Regions from separate parts of the Homo sapiens genome. Here region 1 is linked to region 2. Evidence: fine-mapped expression QTL. Tissue or cell type: skeletal muscle. Region 2 holds a variant in brackets; the other region holds the start of a gene. All regions are shown on one strand. Distances are between the middles of the regions.

What was found.
Region 1: it holds the start of RFK, and the variant in region 2 is fine-mapped to the expression of RFK in skeletal muscle (GTEx, PIP 0.95).

The regions. Positions count from the first base shown.
Region 1 is chr9:76,388,984-76,399,094 of GRCh38, forward strand. RFK (riboflavin kinase) reads right to left here and starts at 5,443. Exons shown (of 4, transcript NM_018339.6): 1 at 5,107-5,443; 2 at 3,435-3,586. The coding sequence starts at 5,188. It also overlaps a transcript of GCNT1 not described here and the pseudogene RPSAP9. RefSeq lists silencers at 70-364, 4,892-5,381, 5,422-5,501, 5,522-5,581 and enhancers at 4,714-5,527, 5,390-5,684, 5,862-6,101.
Region 2 is chr9:76,445,608-76,455,718 of GRCh38, forward strand. It overlaps a transcript of GCNT1 not described here. Among named protein-coding and RNA genes, the nearest start is that of GCNT1, 8.5 kb to the right of the region's middle. The variant C/T (reference allele first, on the strand shown) is at 4,552.

The DNA of each region.
Region 1 (10,111 bases), 57 kb before region 2:
GGGAATGAGCAAAGTATTAAAAGATGTTACTACTAAACAACTAGTTGTTAAGGTCAGTCAGCATTTGCACACGTCTGACACACAACATGTATGGAAACTTCAGAGTTTGGCAGAGCTGAGGACTGAAGGGGCAGGAGAGCCAATGCAGCTTCCTGATCAGGGAGTAAAGTGGCAAAAGGGTACACAGCACATTAAAGCAAAATGCCGCATGACGTAGAAAGTGCCTCAGAATCTAGTTCAGCTAAATCATCTGGGCAGTACTGTGGTTAAGAGGTTAAGAGCACTGACTTAGAGTCAAAAGTCTGGGTTCCCACACTTGGTTAACTGTATAACTAGCTTCCGCGGGGCTCAGTTTTCTCGTCTGTAATGGGTGGGGGGCGGCTTGAGTTAGAAGATACATAAAGTGCCCCATGACTTTGGGGCTATGAACCAATATATTCTTTCTTTTCAGTAAACATTTGAATAATAAAAAAGAAACTAAGATATGTAAGACTGGTTGGGTGCAGTAGTTCATGCCTGTAATCCCAGCACTTTGGGAGGCGGAGCCAGGAGGATCACTTGAGGTCAAGAGTTCAAGACCAGCTTGGCCAACATGGTGGAACCCGGTACTCTACTAAAAACACAAAAATTAGCTGGGCATGGTGGCGCATGCCTATAGTCCCAGCTACTCAGGAGGCTGAGGCAGGAGAATTGCTCAAACCCAGGAGGCGGAGGTTGCAGTGAGCCAAGATCACACCACTGCACTCCAGCACTCTAGCCTTGGCGACAGAGCGAAGACTCCATCTCAAAAAAAAATTTAAAAATAATTTTAAAAAATATGTAAGACCCTGACACTGACAATTACAAGACATTATTGAGAGAAATGGCAAACTTCCCAAAGTAATCTACGAATTCAATGCTGCCCCAATCAAAATCCTAGCAGGTTTTTTAAAATAGGAGAAACTGACAAGTGATTCTAAAATTTATATGGAAAAACCAAAATTATTCATGAAAATCTTGAGAACAAAACTAGAGGGCTTATACAACTAGGTATCAAGACCTATGATAAGACAAGCAAACCAAGTATGTATGTGAATTTTTGGACTCACACACATATAAGGTCACTTGATTTATGTCCCAGGTGACACTACAGCACTGTTGTGAAAGCATGGTATTTTCAATGAATAGGCTGGGTCAATTCTACATCCATATGGAAAAAAATATTAATTTAAATCCCTATCAGATACCATACTAAAAAAGTCAATTTGAAGATATGTCAGTCAATTAAACTTTTAGAAAAAAACCACAGACAAGTATCTTCATGACTTTGGAGTAGTCAAAGATTTCTGAAACAGATTATATAAAGCACTAACTATAAAAAAAATATTGAACTGGATTGTATTAAAATTAAGAACCTCTGGGCTGGGTGCCATGCTCATGCCTGTAATCCTGGCACTTTGGGAGGCTGAGGCAGGAGGACTGCTTGAGCCCAAAAGTTTGAGACCAGTCTGTGTAACATGCTGAAATCTCATCTCTATAAAAAAATTTAAAAATAGCCAAGCATGGTGGCACATGCCTGTGGTCCTAGCTACTCGGGAGGCTGTGATGGGAGGATCACTTCAGCCCAGAAAGTTGAGGCTGCAGTGAGCTGAGATTGCACCACTGCACTGCAGCCTGGGTGACAGAGCAAGACCCTATCTGAAAATACAAAACAAAACAAAACTCTGTTCTTCAACACACCATTGAGAAAAAAAAAAAAAAAACCACACACACACACACAATGAAAGAAATTTGTAATACAACAATACACAGTTCCAACAAAGGAAGTGGATCTAGATGTGTTACTAAGAACTTATTTAAGGTCAGTAAGATAACGCTTTTTTTTTTTTTAAAGGACAAAGGTCTGGCACAGGCACTTCACAGATGTGTGTTACTGGCAAAGGCAAGCAAAAGTTCAATTTTCCACTGGTAAGATATGCCTATGTTTCAAATTCAATTTTTCCTAACACTCAAAAGGCATTCCTTAACTGGCTGTATAATAACATTTTTGTTATCTAAGTAGCTAAAGACAAATTAGTTATGGGCTATTGTCCCCTCCCCTTCTTTTCCTTCCTCATTCAACAGAATGGTATTTTGTGATCTTTCGATTGTTTTCCTTGTCTCCAAAAAATAATTTTCAAATCATTAATACTGAAAAATAACTGAAATACTGAGCAAAATGTTAAGTACTTCTGCGTCATTACTATTGCTTACGCCAGCATTTAGCTCTGTAGTTTTCCAGCAGTGACACACTTCACTTCTATTAACTCCACACAGAACAAAATTTAGCTTCACTGTAATTTGTTTTTGCCACACATTTGAGCTGACAAAAGATTCAGCCAAATCTAACAGATAAAACACTGAAGTTGTGGGGTCCTGTAAAGAGTAGGGCAGAAAAGTATACCCTCAGGTGGTTTAAAAAGGAAAGAGAAAAGCACCAATGTGGGACTGTATCAATAAGCACCATCCTCCATCCACCATCCATGTAGTAAACTGTTTTATCTTAAGAGGGTGACCAAGCGCAATTGATGCATGAAGTAAATGGTGAATGAAGTGCATTAATTGTGGCAAGCTCAATTTTATGAAACAGGCTTTTAAATCATTTTTATCTTTGGTCAAGTGAGTCTTTCACAGACAGCAATTATCAAAGTCAGTATTATAATTTTGGTTTGTAACTCCACTCTTTATTTTCTACATAATTTAAAAAATAAATGCATAAAAAAACCAATTATTAATCTTTGTTATTGGGTACCACAATGTATAAGGATGTAATCTGAGCCAGATGCAGGCAGTGGCATGTACCTATAGTCCCAGCTCTCTGGAGGCTGGAGGAGGATTACTTGAGCCCATGAGTTTGAAGCTACAGTGTGCTACAACCTGGCCTGTGAACAGCTACTGCACTTCAGTCTGGGCAACATAGTGAGACCCCATCTTTAAAAAAAAAAAAAAAGATGCAATTTCTGAGTTCTGTATGCTATTGAAATTAAGTTGGTATAAACTCAAATTAAACTTTTAGAATTTCAGGATGTTAAATATAAACCCCATGGTAACCACAAAGACAGTATCTATAGAAATACACAGAAAGCAATGAGAAAGGAATTAAAATGTCACTACAAAACAAAACAAAACAAAAAGCACACTACCACAAAAGGCAGTAATAGAGGAAATGAGGGACATAAAAGTTATAAGGCATATAAAAAACAAATAGCAAAACAGTAGATGTCCCTCCTTATCAGAAATTACTTTAAATGTAAATGAATTAAACTCTCCAATTAAAAGACAGAGATTGCCCAAAATTCCAGTATTTGAACTACGTTGTGATTACCACTGATAAGCTATTTCTGTAACGAATACTGTAATATATTATTCTAAGTCATCATACCATTTTCGGTTACAGAGCAAAATATAATGCTTACCATAGACTTCTTCGTATTCTTGTAATATGGGTTCCATCCTATGCTCACCACCATCTTATGGACATCTCCACTTCCAACACTGGCCCAACCATAGTAAATACCAGTGGATATATCAGCTGGAAGATTATCTACCACTTGCTCAGGAAAATTAGCTAAACAACAGAAGAAAATATTTTGAGTCTTACAAATTTCGTATTAAATGCCTGTAGCCGAGTGCAGTGGCTCATGTCTGTAATTCTAGGACTTTGAGAGGCCAAGGCAGGAGGCTCATGTTGAGCTCTGGGGTTTGAGACCGGCCCGGGTAACATAGTGAGATCTTACCTCTATTAAAAAATTAGCTGGGGATGGTGGCCTGCACCTATAGTCTAAGCTACCAGAGAGGCTGAGGCAGGAGGGTCAGTTGAGCCCAGCAGATGGAGGCTGCAGTAAGCTATGATCGCACTACCACTGCACTCCAGCCTGAGTGGCAGAGCCAGATTCTGTCTCAAAATAATAATAAGAAACAAACATTTGTAAAAATCACATGCAAGGCTAATGTAAATCATTACATTCACAAGACTCCTACAACTTTGCCTGTAAGTATCAATCCCATCCTTCCATTTTCCGGCTCAGATTTCCCTCTCCTATTCATGTGAATAGGTTATGAATAAAGTACCAGGTAAGTATATAAAGCTCTCCAAAAAAATCCATACTCTTTGAGTAGGATGCAAAAAACAAGTACCAGAGTAGATGGATTTTTTCAGATCTGTTCTTTCCTAACCAGGTACTGAATCACCTGAAAAGTTTCTTTCTTTTTTTTTTTTTTTTGAGACGGTGTCTCACTCTGTCGCCCAGGCTGGAGGGCAGTGGCACGATCTCGCCTCACTGCAGCCTCCGTCTCCTGGGTTCAAGCGATTCTCCTGCCTCAGGTTCCCGAGTAGCTGGGATGACAGGCACGCGCCACCATGCCCAGCTAATTTTTGTATTTTTAGCAGAGACGGGGTTTTACCATGTTGGCCAGGCTGATCTCGAACTCCTGAGCTCAGATGATCCGCCCGCCTCGGCCTCCCAAAGTGCTGGGATTACAGGCGTGAGCCACCACGCCCGGCCAAAGCTTCTTATTTTTCAAATACACAAGCTCAAGGCTGACTTAACAAGTCAAGACGCAGCTCTGGCATGTATTTCTAAGGATGAATTACAGTCAGGTCTCGATTATTGAAATTAATGTAGACAGACCAAGAAGGTTAGCTGACTCTCATTCAACTACCTATGTTATCATTTGGACATTACATAATTACAAATTAAAAACAAAACCACCTTAGACCCGGCTTGCGAGTTCAGCCGTTCTGGCCCACGTTACGTCTCTAATGGGCAAGACAAGCGCAATGCTTGACCAACTGTACCTTGGCTGGCCAAGGAGGCGTGAACGGGGAATCCTGCGATTCATCTCGGGCTTCCGGCCCTCACCACCCCTCAACCCCGTCCCCGCGGAGCTCGGAGCCAGAAGCAGGGACAAGCTCCCTCAACCGAGCCAACGGTCCTCCGCCACAGACAAGGGGATGCGGGAGGAGGAAGGGTGTGCTCTCTGCCCGCGGTCCGGAGGCCCCACGCCCCGGTCCCAAGTCCCCGGCTGCCGTCTCTCCCCGCTCCCCACGTGACCCGGCCCGGGGGACTCTGGCCGCCCTGCTCTCACCTGTGGGGATGCCCAGCTGCTTGGAGCCGCGGCCGAAGCCCCGCACCACTTGACCCCGGCAGAAGTAAGGCAGGTGCCTCATAATGCAGTCCGCTCGGGGAATGGGCTGCGGCCCGGTCTGCGCGTCCTGCGGAGCCGCCGTCGACGCGGCGCCCAGACCCCGGACCAGCCGGGGGACAGGAGCGTGAGCTCTGCCTGCCGCGGGGGCGCACCAGTGGCCGGACGACGCCGACCACAGGCCACTGCGAATCCCTGACGCCGCCGACCCAACAAATACCGCCGGGCGCCTGAGGAGCTGCGTCTCCGCTGGAGGGCAGCGGAGACAGCCGAAGTAAGTGCCGGGTGTGAGCGGGGTGGGGGGAGGGGGCGGCCCGAAGCGCAGAGCCGGCCTCCGCGCCGCCGGCGTGCGCTCCCTTCCTCAGCCGAACGCCTCGAGCCCGCTCGGCTTCCGTAGCCCCGCCCCATCATGGCCCCGCCCCGCCGCTGCCTCGCCCGGCTCCCGCCGCAAGCTCCCGCTGCAGGCTCCCGCCCCAGGCGCCTAATGTCTGGATCCCGGGCTTCGTTTCAGCCCCTGGCGATGGGAACTAATGTGGAAACCCCGTTTTCAGCCTGAGAGCCGCGAAAGCACAATTCTCGAACAATTCTGGTTTTTTTTTCTCCTTCCTCCTGTTCATAACAATCCGGAAGCCAAAGTGAGACGCTCTTTAGCTCCTTGGCAACCGCTGGGTTGAACGTCAGGCATCGCTCGTTCCGTTCGCTCTTTAAGTATTTATTAAAGCTCCAAAATTCAGCTCAAAGATCGCCTCTTCACAGAGGCTTTTCCTGGCCGCCCTACCAGAAGCGGTCGTCCTCCAGGACCACTGACCACGTTCTGGAGTTATTAATATATTCGAATGTAAGCTCCAAGGGAGAAGTCCCTGTCTGTGACGCTGTTAACCCCAGAGACTAGTGGAAGGTTACCGACATGGGCGGTGACTGTCCCCTCCAGGCTGTCTTCTTGACAATTTCACAAGCCCGATAACAGGCCGTCCCTCTACTGCAATGCAGATAGAGGCCTTCGTACCCTCGGAACTGTAAATACGCACGCTCCTAGGGAAGTAGCTCTGGGCTCACTCACAGGATATGCAGGGTGCAAGGTTATAAGAAGGTGCATCCTCTTAACGTCTCGAAGACAAAGAAGTTTTTTATTTATTTTTTTAAATTTTTAATCAATGGAATCCAGAGAAGTTTAATTTTTTTCTTTTTTGCTCTATACATTTGTATAAAATTCTGTGCAGACCGTGTAGTCTCTTTCTACCTTACATGTATGCATCTCTGATAAGATTTACCTGATATTAAATTTATGTTCTAGGCCAGGCTTGGTGGCTCACGCCTGTATTCCCAGTAGTTTGAGAGGCCGACGCGGGAGGATTGATTGAGCCCAGGAGGTCGAGGCTGCACTGAGCTATGATAACGCCACTGCACTCCAGACTGGGCGACACAGTGAGACACCCTCACCCCTTAAAAGAACTAGAGAAGAAGAAGGAAGGGAGGGAAGGGAAAGGAAAGGGGAAGGGAAAGTGAAAGGGAAGAAAAGGGAAGGGAAGGGAGAGAAGGACCCAAAGAAGCAATTATGGTCAGTTACTTATCTATACGGAATTAAACAAAGAATAATGAGAATAACGATAATAGTAATACCGGTAGTAAGAGTAGTAATAGCAAGTTGTGAAAAGCAATTAAGTTATCTGGAGAGGCTTAAGAGTTATTTTAGCAAGGTGTGTACAGGATTCTCTCACTCTTGACTCCCGTCCTTAATAAGAGTGCTGCATTCCTTCTAATATAGGGAGGATGTCTCTCATATGGTAATTTCATCTGCTTCTAAGAAACAGAAAAGAGGTCAGAATGATTTTTTTGTATCTATTGTTTTTCAAGTGCTTTTAATTCAAAATAGTCAATATGCAAGAATGGTATATTTTTAACTTCATCAGCAGTGATACACCTAATAAGAAAAGCCTGGAGGTGAGAACTTGATAAATCATCCCTGGGTCTTACGCCACTAAGCCCTAGGTTGCAAGAAGGTATGAGAATTAAATGAGATAAAATAATTAAATGAATCATAGGAGGTAAATGAGGAGGGGTGGTTTTAAGAATAGAGAAAATGCTAAGTATTTTTCACACTGTCTCATGTAATCCTCTCATCAGCTTTGTTGGAAAGCATTAACCTAAACGTATAAAAATGGGCGGGGCATGGTGGCTTACGCCTGTAATCCCAGCACTCTGGGAGACCGAGGTGAGCGGATCTCTTGAGCTGAGGAGTTCAAGACCAGCCTGGGCAAAATAGGGAGACTTCCGTCTATCCAAAAATTTTAAAATAAAAATAAGTAAGAAAGAGAGAAAAAAGAAAGAAAAGAAAAGAAACAAGAAAAAAAAGAAGAAAGGGGAAAGAAAAGAAGAGGAGAAAATAAGAAAGAAAATTTTAAAAATCAGCCAGGGCCTGGCACAGTGGCTCATGCCTGTAATCCCAGCACTTTGGGAGGCTGAGGCCGGTGGATCACTTGAGCTCAGGAGTTGGAGACCAGCCTGGGCAACATGGTGAAACCCCGTCTCTACAAAAAATACAAAAATTAGCCGGGAGTGGTGGCGCTCACCTGTGGTCCTAGATACCCTGGAGGCCGAGGCACAAGAGTCGCTCGAACCTGGCGGCAGTTGCAGTGAGCTGGAGATCACGCCACTGCACTCCATATGGGGCAACAGAGCGAGACTCTGTCTCAGCCAGGTGGTGGTGGCTCGTGCCTATAGCCCCAGCTACTTGGGAAACTGAGGAGTGAGGATCGCCTGAGCCCCAGAATTTGAGGCAGCAGTGAGCTGTGATTGAACCACTGCACTCCAGCCTAATGACAAAGCAAGACACGGTCACTAAAAAAATAAATAGGCCGGGCGCAGTGGCTCTTGCCTGTAATCCCAGCACTTTGGGAGACCGAGGCAGGTGGATCACCTGAGGCCAGGAGTTCAATACCAGCCTGGACAACATGGCAAAACTCGGTCTCTACTAAAAATACAAAAATTAGCCAGGCATGGCAGTGAATGCCAGTAATCCCAGCTACTCGGGAGACTGGGGCGGAAGAATCGCTTGAACCCAGGAGGCGGAGGTTGCTATGAGCCGAGATTGCTCCATTGTACTCCAGCCTGAGTGACAGAGCAAGATTCCTTCTCAATAAATAATACATAAATAAATAGATAGATTTAAAAAAAAAAAGGAGAGTCTTGTAGAATGTTTAAGATGGAGCAGTCAGGCTCCAATCTTTAAAACTACCATTTACATGTCAAGTCATATGGGTAATTACTGTGTTATCAGCATAGGATATAGAAGAAAGAATTTTTTTTTTTTTTTTTGAACCAGAGTCTCACTCTGTCACTCAGGTTGGAGTGCAGTGGCGCAATCTCGGCTCACTGCAACCTCCACCTCCCGGGCTCAAGTGATTCTCCTGCCTCAGCCTCCCGAGTAGCTGGGACTACAGGTTTATGCCACCACGCCCGGCTAATTTTTGCATTTTTAATAGAGACAGGGTTTCATCATGTTGGCCAGGCTGTTCTGGAACTCCTGGCTTCAAGTGATCCACCTTCCTCGGCCTCCCAAGAAGGAAGAATTCTGATCATTTTCCACCACCGCTCAATAGCGTTCAATGGCTCCTCCCCTCTGACTGAAGAATAAACCCTCCAAGAGTTGTACTTCTAAGAACTCCCATCAAGTACTCAATCTGTTGATCAAAGCAGACCCCTCCACCTTGCTTCAGAGGCCAAAGCATATGCTTCAAATAATTCAATAATTATTCTGTAGGCTATAGGATTTATAATTTTTCTTCTTCATTTGACTCCAAAAATATGCTACCTAGCATTCTCAGTAAATCTAGAGTTGAGAGTCTATGTGTCTTTGCCAAACTTACTGCTTTTAACCAAGGAAGTATTCTAAAACGTGTTTTTTATTTCCCCCTCTGAACTGCACTTGCACATCCTTTCAGCTGCCTGTAGGGAAAGAGTCCACTTCTCTGGTTTAATTTGTCTCTGTAGAAAGAAGGATCACAAATAAGACTAAAGAGAAAGTAGAACTGGCAGCTTGTGAGGGAAAAGAAGGCTTATTCTAAGTAAGCAATGAAAAATGAATCTGAAGAATTCTTAAAATTCAGCAATAAGAAAATAAGCAACTCAATTAAAAAATGAGCAAAAGATCTGAATAAGCATATGAAAAGATGTTCAACATCATATATCGTGAGGGAAATACAAATTAAAACAACAATGAGATACTACTATATACCAATTAGAATGGCCAAAATTCAGAACACTGACAACACCAAATGCTGGCAACCATGTAGAGCAACAGGAACTTTCATTCATTGTTGGTGGGAATACAAAATGGTACAGCCCCTTGGAAGATAATATGGCAGTTTCTTATAAAACTAAACGTACTTTTACTATGTTATCCAGAAATTGTGCTCACTTATATTTAATCAAATGAGGTGAAAACTTTTATCCACACAAAAACCTATTTGTTTTTGCTTTCCGCGCTACCTACAGAGGGGCCCATACGGCGTTGTTCTGGATTCCCGTCGTAACTTAAAGGGAAACTTTCACAATGTCCGGAGCCCTTGATGTCCTGCAAATGAAGGAGGAGGATGTCCTTAAGTTCCTTGCAGCAGGAACCCACTTAGGTGGCACCAATCTTGACTTCCAGATGGAACAGTACATCTGTAAAAGGAAAAGTAATGGCATCTATATCATAAATCTGAAGAGGACCTGGGAGAAGCTTCTGCTGGCAGCTAGTGCTATTGTTGCCATTGAAAACCCTGCTGATGTCAGTGTTATATCCTCCAGGAATACTGGCCAGAGGGCTGTGCTGAAGTTTGCTGCTGCCACTGGAGCCACTCCAATTGCTGGCCACTTCACTCCTGGAACCTTCACTAACCAGATCCAGGCAGCCTTCCGGGAGCCATGGCTTCTTGTGGTTACTGACCCCAGGGCTGACCACCAG
Region 2 (10,111 bases):
GTCTCGAACTCCCGAGCTCAAGCGATCCTCCCGCCTTGGCCTCCCTCAGTTTTTACTTATTAGAATTGGCAAAGATAAAAACTGTGGCTAGGTGGGGTGGCTCACACCTGTAATCCCAGCAATCTGGGAGGCCAAGGTGGAAGGAATGCTTGAGGTCAGGAGTTCGGGACCAGCCTGGACAACATGGTGAGACTCCTGTCTCTATAAAAAATAGAAAATACGAAAATTAGCCAGACATGGTGGTGTGTGCCTGTTCCAGCTACTCAAGAGGCTGAGGAGGGAGGATCTCTTAAGCCCAGAAGTTTGAAGCTGCAGTGAGCTGTGGTCAATTACACCACTGGACTCCAGCCTGGGCAACAGAGCAAGACCCCATTTCCTAAATAAATCAATAAATATTATTTTTAAAACCTGTGATAATTTGCTCTGTTGGTGAGTGTGTGGGGGAAACAGGAAGTCACACATTGCTGGTGAGAATGTAAATTGGAACAATTTCTCTGTGGAAGACATGAAGAGTCATCAGGAAGCTTAAGGCCTGGGAGTTCCTAGGGGATCATCTATCTAGAAAATTTACCCTGGGAAACTGACCTTCAAGTCTCCCTTGCAGAGATTATGCAGGAATGCACTGGAGTGACTCCAGTGCCCTTCTCTGGTCAGGAACATAGCCAGGGTCTCCAGAACATATAGAGGGTGTAAGACAAGGAGAGTTTTTGCAGAAGCTGATGGGAGCCAGCACACAGCACCCAGGGAAGTTTGCCCTTGTGGAAAAGACGGCTGCCAAAACTCCCGCTCCATGCAATCTTCTTAGAGTTTAAATTCTCCTATCCTTTATCAAGGTCTAAGGAACTTGTTTCTTTTGCCTGTGTCTGATGGTATCTATTGCCAATCATCTTCCCCCACACAGAGGGTGAGACCTATCAACTTTTTAAATGCACATACATTTTGACCAAGCAATACCACTTACGGCAATTAATACTACACATATGTTTTATATATGTGTGAAGACATTCACTGTAGCATTGTTTATAATAGCAAAAAACTGGAAACAACTGGAATGGCCATTAGGGAACTATTTGAATATCATGGCATAGCCCCGTACTGGATAGACACTGAAAAGAACAAAGAGGCTTTATATAAACTAATATGGAATGATTTTCCAAACGTGTTAAGTGAGAAGAAGCAAAGTAAAGAACATATATGGGCCAAGCATAGTGGCTTGGTGTTTACATACATTAGATGTTAGAGGTACATACTAAAGAGGCAGTTTAGGCTGGGCACAGTGGCTCATGCCTGTAATCCCAGCACTTTGGGAGGCTGAGACGGGCAGATCACTCGAGTCCAGGAGTTTGAGGCCAACGTGGCCAACATGGTGATACCTCATCTCTACAAAAAATACAAAAATTAACTGGGCATGGTAGCGTCCACCTGTAATCCCAGCTACTTGGGAGGCTGAGGTAGGAGGATTGTCTGAGCCCAGGAGATTGAGGCTGCAGTGAGCTGGGAGCGTGCCACTGCACTACATCCTGGGCAGAGTGAAACCCTGTGTCAAAAAAAAAAAAAAAAAAAAAAAAAAAAAGAACAGATATGGATGGTATGTGGATATTGCTGAATTGCTTCTTCCTTTTCTTTTTTTCTTTTTCTTCTTTTTCTTTTTTGGAGACAGATCTCACTCTCACCCAGGCTGGAGTGCAGTGGCTTGATCACCACTCACTGCAGCCTCAACCTCCCGGGCTCAGGCAATCCTTCCACTTTAGCCTCCTTAATAGCTGGGACCATAGGTGTGCACCACCACGCCCCAGCTAATTTTTATTTTTATTTTTTTGTAGAGAGAGGTTTCACCATGTTGCCCAGGCTGGTCTTAAACTCCTGGGCTTAAGCGATCGGGCTGCCTCAGCCTCCCAAAGTGCTGGGATTACAGGCATGAGCCACTGTGCCCAGCCTAAACTGCCTCTTTAGTATATACCTCTAACATCTAATGTATGTAAACACTAGGACTGATTTTCACCCTATTTCTTAACTTTTTTATAGTTATACATGTGATTTTGCACACTACCACCAGAGGGGGCCTCTGCCACACTTCACGCAATATTTACAAGTCAGTATGGAGGATGTTTATTAAATAATTTTTATATCTAGAACATTCTTGTTCATTTAGCATAGGCATTTTGGTGCTCAGCTTTAAAAAAACTCTGTGAGCCCCCTGGCTCATCCGTCTTCTTTAGCATGTCAGTCCACAATCCCTGTGTCCAGTACGCCCTGACCCTGTCATCTTCCTTTGCTGTGCTGGATTCCTGAAACTGAAAATGCCTCACAACTTCTATGCACTCTTACCCTCAAAAGAGTGCATTTAGTGGCATGGCTGTGCCAGCCGTCTTTGTCCAGATGGCTTCCAGATAGGAATCACTGAGTCCAGGAATACTTTGAGAAGCCTGGAGAGCCTCTACTCTGAAAGTTTATCATCACTGCAAACTCAGCGAGTCCAGATTTTGCTCAACACATGCTGTCTGCTTTCTGTTTACCCCTCTAGTCTTTACTAACAGACACTTTATATATATATATACACACAGCCAGGCGCGGTGGCTCGCGCCTGTAATCCAAGCACTCTGGGAGCCCGAGGCAGGCGGATTACTTAAGCCCAGGAGTTTGAGACCAGCCTGGGCAACATGGTGAAACCCTATCTCTACAAAAAATACAAAAATTAGCCAGGTGTGGTGGCACGTACCTGTAGTCCCAGGTACTTGGGAGGCTGAGGTGGGAGGATGGCTTGAGCCCAGAAGACTGAGGCTACAGTGAGCTGTGATCATGCCACTGCACTCCAGCCTGGGTTGCAGAGTACGACCCCACCTCAAAACAACAACAGCAGCAAAAAAATCTTATTGAGGCATGGTTTAATAAAATATAGCTGTTTAGGTGTATAGTTCCATGACTTCTGACCAACCTACTAACCCAGGCAATTATTACCACAATCAAGATAAAGAACATTTCTATCACCCCAAAAAGCAAATGCCCTCCTCTCCCCACACTCAGCCCCAGCAACAACTGCTCTCCTTTCTGTCACTATAGATTAGATTTGCCTCTTCCAGAATTTCAGATACATAAACATGAATCAAACGGTCTGTACTCTTTCGTGTTTGGCATCTTTATCTCCACATAAGGTCTGGAGATTCATCCATGTTGAAGTGTGAATCAATTTTGCTTTCTTAAATGTCATTCCATTATTTTAATATGATATGCTGCAATTTGTTGATCCATTCAGACAGGTACTTCTTTTAACTTGTTTTTGCTGGTAAACACCCTGATGGGCATCTGCTCACTGTACATGTCATTTTCTTTTGGACAGAAATGCTAAATTTACTATTATTTGTTCATTTATTTTATGTTTTTCCAAAATGGAAACATCTTTCTGAAACAATGGGAAAGGGATCAGAATATGCCACCCCAGGCTGGGCATGGTGGCAGGGCCTATAATCCCAGCATTTTGGGAGGCTGAAGTGAGAAGATCCCTTGAGGCCAGGAGTTTGAGACCAGCCTGGGCAATAAAGCAAGACCCTGTCTCTACCAAAAACAAAATAAAATAAATTAGCGGGGCGGGGTAGTGTGTACCTGTAGTCCTAGCTACTTGGTTCAAGATGACAGTGAGGTATGATCACACTACCACACTCCAGCCTGGGCAACAACAAACAAGACCCTGTCTCTATAAAAAACAACAAAAAAAAAAACAAGCAAATAAAATGATAATAGTAAAAGTAAAAAAGAATGTGCCACCTCAAAACATGCCATATTGGCATAAGGATTATTTTGAGCTAAAGGCAACTGAGAAACAGCAGACACAAGCAAAACTCTTTGCCCTCTCTCTTTCTACCTACAAACGTTTGCCTAATTTCCCTTTGCAAAGGTGATGCCCTCTCCCATACCAGAATAAGGTGAACAATTCATCTGCATAACACACCTCACTAAACAAGCCTTAATTACCATGCCTTTCCCAGTTACCTTCCCACAATTTACCCACACCAGAGAAGCGCAGCCTCTCCCCATTTCCCTTGTCTAGTAGCTTCCCACACTTTATCATCCTCTGTTAAAATGCTGTATAAGCTCCTGGGTCTAAGCACCTCTTTGGGATTTTCACTTTTTTTCTGTGAAGCTTACATATGCAAACAAAATAAACCTTTTCGTTTTTGTTTGTTTTGTTTTGTTTTTGAGACAGAGTCTCACCCTGTCACCCAGGCTGGAGTGCAATGGTGTGATCTCGGCTCACTGCAACCTCTGCCTCCTGGGCTCAAGTGATTCTCATGCCTCAGCCTCCCAAGTAGCTAGAATTACAGACGCCCAGCTAATTTTTTGTATTTTTTGTAGAGACAGGTTTTCGCCGTTTTGGCCAGGCTGGTCTCAAACTCCTGACCTCAAGTGATCCACCAGCCTCAGCCTCCCAAAGTGCTGGGATTACAGGTGTGAGCCACTGCGCCCGGCCCTATTCGCCTCTTTTTATAAATTATATGTAACTGATGGTGTGTAAATTCTGTCCTGTCTGGCAATAATTTAATTGGTTCCCGCCAT[C/T]CCCACCCTATGAAAATACCAGTTTTGTTTCCATTTGCAATTCATCTTAACATTCCTTTACTCCAGATAAATCTGTGCTTTTTGACTTTTCCTTTGAAATGTTTATAACGTACATCTGATTCCCTTATAGCATATGCGTAAATTCCTTAACAGATGTGCACTTTTATATTTGTATGAGTCATGATTTTATCTTTCTCTGAAAATTATTTTTTAACAACCCTTACATTGTTTACAGTGTTTCGATTCTGAAATCTTTGTGTATTTGTAAAATTTCCTACATAGGATAAATTCCTAGATGAATAGTTGTCCATAAGTATCCATGTTGTCCAAATGCCTTCTAGAAAGTTTGTAGAAATCTCTACAACAGAGAGCAGCACAGGAGTCTGTATTCCTACACCTTCATCTATATTATGTTTATCAATCTTTTTCAACTTTGCCAATCTGATAGGTAAAAAGTGATTTGTAGTTTTAATTTGCTTTTCTTCAATTCCTATTGAAATTGAGCATCTTTTTATGTGGATTTCTTCTTTAGTGAAGTATCTTATCATGCCCTTTGCCCATTTTTCACCTGGTGCATATTTTTACGTAAACACCCCTTTATTTGAAAAATTAATTTTTGCTTACATACTATTGCATATATTTTCTAGTTTGTTGACTTTTAACTTTGTTTATGATATATTTTGTTATGCATACATTTAACACTTTAATGTATTAACTATATCAAACTATTTTGTGTGTGATTTTAGCTTTGTTGCCATTCTGAGAAATGCTGCCTGCTCTTAAAAGGGATCAACCTGTTTCTTTTTAAAAACATTAAAGAACTTACATGTATGGGTTTTAGAAACATATTTCAGGCTTTACTCTACCTGGAATTTGCATGCTTAGGAGCCACACTTTCTTTTTTTCCTGGACAGTACATTTATGATTGAATTTGCTTTCTCCATGCTTTGAAAGTAGTACCTTACTCTTTTATGTCTTCCTCATGTTCTTTTCAATGTAATTTGATTAAATTTCTAAAACAATTCAAAACTAATTTTGTAGCATTTGTCAAAATAAATCTGGATTTAGGCAAGGGGAGACTTTATTCAAAAGGATTATTGCAAGAAGAGGATGGGTGGCTATCATAAAAGGATGAGGAGAGCTCTTTAGCCAGTGCTATTTTTCAGAAAAACAAGGCTCTGGCAAAGATCAACACTGTTGACCTCCCTTTTGTTAATGATAAAAGAATATTATTCACCACTGAGCAATTCAGATGCAATCCTAAGCCTCCTACATGGGGTGAGTCAGGGACTAAGAAACGGTCTCCTGGGGACTCTGGTTGGTGTTGTTCCCACAAAACCAGCTGAAGCATCTGTTGAAAGGTGGTGGCAAAAATCAGTTGTTTAAGGGTCAGGTATCTTAAAATGAGGAATGCCTACCATTAAAAAGATAAATGTTAATTAAAAGTTTTAATATAAAAGGCCAAAGAAATATTAATCTTGGCATCTACAAGCCAAGGAGAGAGGCCTCAGAAAAAGCCCAACTCTGCTGACACTCAATTTTGGACTTCCAGCCTCCAGAATTGTGAGAAAACAAAATTCTGTTGTTTAAAGTACCAGTCTATGGTACTTTGTTGACAGACCTAGCAAAGTAATATACCTACAGAGAAAACTATGAAGTAGATAATTAGCTGTCTGTCATATACCAGCATATTGTAGCAGACTAGTCAAGCTTAAGGTTATATATCTTGTGACTTTTTTATAGCCATACACTTCCTTATAGTACAACTTTTCTTTTCTTTTCTTTCTTTCTTTTTTTTTTTTTTTTTTGTTGTTGTTGTTGTTGTTTTGAGATGGAGTCTCTCTCTGTCGCCCAGGCTGGAGTGCAATGGTGTGATCTCGGCTTACTGCAACCTCCACCTCCTGGCTTCAAGTGATTCTCCTGCCTCAGCCTCCCGAGTAACTGGGATTACAGGCCCCTGCCACCACATCCAGCTAATTTTTGTATTTTTAGTACAGATGGGGTTTCACCATGTTGGTCAGGTTGATCTCAAACTCCTGACCTCAGGTGATCCACCCACCTTGGCCTCCCAAAGTGCTGGGATTACAGGTGTGAACCACTGCACCTGGCCTGTACAACTTTTCAGTGTGGCAAGAATGAACACATCATTAGCAGACCAAAATATATTTAGCCTCTCTGTACTAAAAAAAATTTACATAAGCTTTAAATTATGCTCCACTAGTCTATCTTACTTAGAAATGATCTAGGTACTTATATTAGACCATTCTTGTATCGCTATAAAGAACTACCTGAGACTGGGTAATTTATAAAGAAAAGAGGTTTAATTGGCTCACAGTTCTGTACGCTGCACAGAAAGCATGGCTTGGGAGGCCTCAGGAAACTTACAATCATGATGCAAGTTGAAGGGGAAGCAGGTACATCTTACACGGCTGGAGCAGGGGGAGGAGAGGCAGGGAGGAGGTGCCACATACTTTTAAACAACCAGATCTCATGAGAACTCCATGACAAGACAGCACCAAAGGGATGGTGCTAAACCATTAGAAACCGCCTCCAGGATTCAATCACACTCCATCAGGCCCCACTTCCACAACTGGGGACTACAATTCGATATGAGATTTGGGCAGGGACACTGATCGAAACCATATCACCCCCGAAGTGGGAAGGGCTCCCTACCCAGCTAGTTTCCCCTTCAGCCAGACCAGCTGTACCCTACTTAATCTTCAATCTAAGGAGCTTTACCTACCTGCCAGCCCACAGAACTATTTGAACAAGCCAATTACATCCTCCCGTGGAATAAAAGGTTACCTCACTCTTGTGCCATTACTACAAAGCCTGCCTCACACAGCCCCTGCTGCTTCAGTCTGCTTTCAAATGCAATTCCCATGTGGCTCTGCCTGGCATGCAATAACCTCCTCACCCCTTAGGCTGTGAGTATGTAACTGAAAAAACTGTAGCCAATCTCATCTGCCCAGTATTGGGTGTCATCTGTTCAGCCATCTCCTGTTTAGCACAGGAGATCCCTGCTTCACCAGTGCTGTGAAGAGAAGGTGGTCAGAACAGAAGGGAGGCCTAATCTTGAGTGACCATGAGTTGAGGAGCTGGAGTGGGTAGGAAAAGGTGTGTAGGAATGGGTAGATGGGTGAAGGAGGTGGACAGATTAAATCATTCAAGGCAACAAAAGAGAAGGTTTAAAGTGGTAAAAAGGAGGGATGAGGATGATGGGAAGGGAGAAGTCTTAGATGAGCTGGTTTAAGGAGATCTCATGTTTCCCAAAGAGGCCTTTGAGGTTCTAGGTTACCTTTAGTAAATTGTGCCATTTTTGAGGCTATTAAACTGAATTAGTGCCATAATAGCAGGTACTCAGTGGGGGAAGAGGAGGGCATCTGATAGAGTGAGAGTTACCCATGGCATTAGTGGATAGTCAGCCCAAAGAAAAGTCTTTAAAGGAGCCAAGAAAAACTCCCACTTGATTAATTCCCTTGAACAATCCCCAGGTCGAGGAGCTGAGGAAACACAGAAGTCTCACAGGAGGGCCAAAGCATCTCTTTGCCTGAAACAATCAAAGTAACCTCTTACTGTTCTTCAACAGACAAGATGGCCAGAGCACTGGTTCAAGACTTGAACTCACCCAAGAGTCCTCAAGTCCTGAACATGGCACCTTTACCTGGGTGGGGCTGGTGGAGGTCCCTAGGTGAGTTCCAGTCTTGAGCTGGATCACAGCAATGAGAACTGTCAAATAAAAACCAAATCCAGATCTAGGTAAGGAGAGACTTTATTTAGAAGGATTATTGCAATAGAAAAAGAGAATGTCGCAATAGGGGAGGGACGGCATTCTAATAGAATGCTTCAACCATAAGATCTGCAAGCTTTTGAAAGGTCAGGCAGAAAAGGGTTTTTCTTTTTTTGGTAGTAGTAAACAATGTTAAAAAGAACCAGTATCGGCTGAGTGCGGTGGCTCATGCCTGTAATCCCAGCACTCTGAGAGGCCAAGGTGGGAGGATCACCTGAGGTCAGGAGTTTGAGACCAGCCTGACCAACATGGTGAAAACTCGTCTAAAAATACAAAATTAGCTGGGCATGGTTGGTGCATGCCTGTAATCCCAGCTACTTGGGAGGCTGAGGCAGAAGAATCGCTTGAACCCGGGAGGCGGAGGTTGCAGTGAGCTGAGATTGCACCACCATTGTACTCCAGCCTGGGCAACAAGAGCGAAACTCTGTCTCAGAAAAGAAAAAAAAAAAAAAAAAAAAAAAAAAAAGAACCAGTATCAGGGAGTGGGATGAGCAGGTGGCCCAATCAGGCAACTGATCAGGACAGAGTTTCTTTGTGGTCAGCTGGAAAAGGGCTTCTTGGGAGGGGATGTGATATGGTTTGGCTGTGTTCCCACCCAAACCCCACCCAAATCTCATCTTGAATTGTAATCCCCATAATCCCCACGTGGTGAGGGAGGGGCTTGGTGGAGGTGATTGGATCGTGGGGGCAGTTTCCCCCGTGTTGTTTTTGTGATAGTGAGTGAGTTCTCAGGAGATCTGATGGTCTTATAAGGCTGTTTTCCCTGCTCTTGCTTGCTCTCTCTCATCTGCCGCCGTGTAAGATGTGCCTCTTCCCCTGCTGTCATGATTAAAAGTTTCCTGAGGCCCCCCCAGCCAGGCAAAACTGTGAGTCAATTAAACCTCTTTTCTTTTCTTTTTTTTTTTTTTTTTTTTTTGTTAGACAGAGTCTCACTCTGTCGCCAGGCTGGAGTGCAGTGGCATGATCTCAGCTCACTGCAACCTCCGCCTCCCGGGTTCAAGCGACTCTCCTGCCTCAGCCTCCTGAGTAGCTGGGATTACAGGCGTGCACCACCACGCCTGGATAATTTTTGTATTTTTAGTAGAGACAGAGTTTCACCATGTTGGTCAGGCTGGTCTCGAACTCCTAACCTTGTGATTCGCCCGCCTCAGCCTCCCAGAGTGCTGAGATTACAGGCGTGAGCCACCGCACCCAGCCTTTAAACCTCTTTTCTTTATAAATCATCCAGTCTCAGAAATGTCTTTATAGCAATGTGAAAGCAGACTAATACAGGACATTAAGGGGCTTATTCCAAATTCCAATGCTGGTTTAGGCTGAGACTAGATTAAAGGGCAAAGACCTGATGGAAGGAGAAAAGCCTCATTGAAGTTTGATCAAGTAAGGTATTTGCCCAGATTGATCAGTAGGGGCAAATGGTTCAGCTAACCATTTATAAGATGAGAATGGAAATTTGGAGCGCATGTCTATGGCCTTGTTGTAAGTGTGAAAGGATGTTATCCATGATGATTACCTAAGTCATTTGGGGAAAGGTGGTTCTATGTAGTTAGTGGTTTCTCAGAAAATACAGCCGGGAGAGGATGTTCACTGGTCTCCAGTAACACAAAGTATAGGTCAAGCAACACCATCCCCTTACTTTTTTTTTAATTTATTCTTATTTATTTATCTATTTTTGAGATGGAATCTTGCTCTGTCACCCAGGCTGGAGTGCAGTGGCATGATCTTGGCTCACTGGAACCTCCGCCTCCCAGATTCAACCGATTCTCGTGCCTC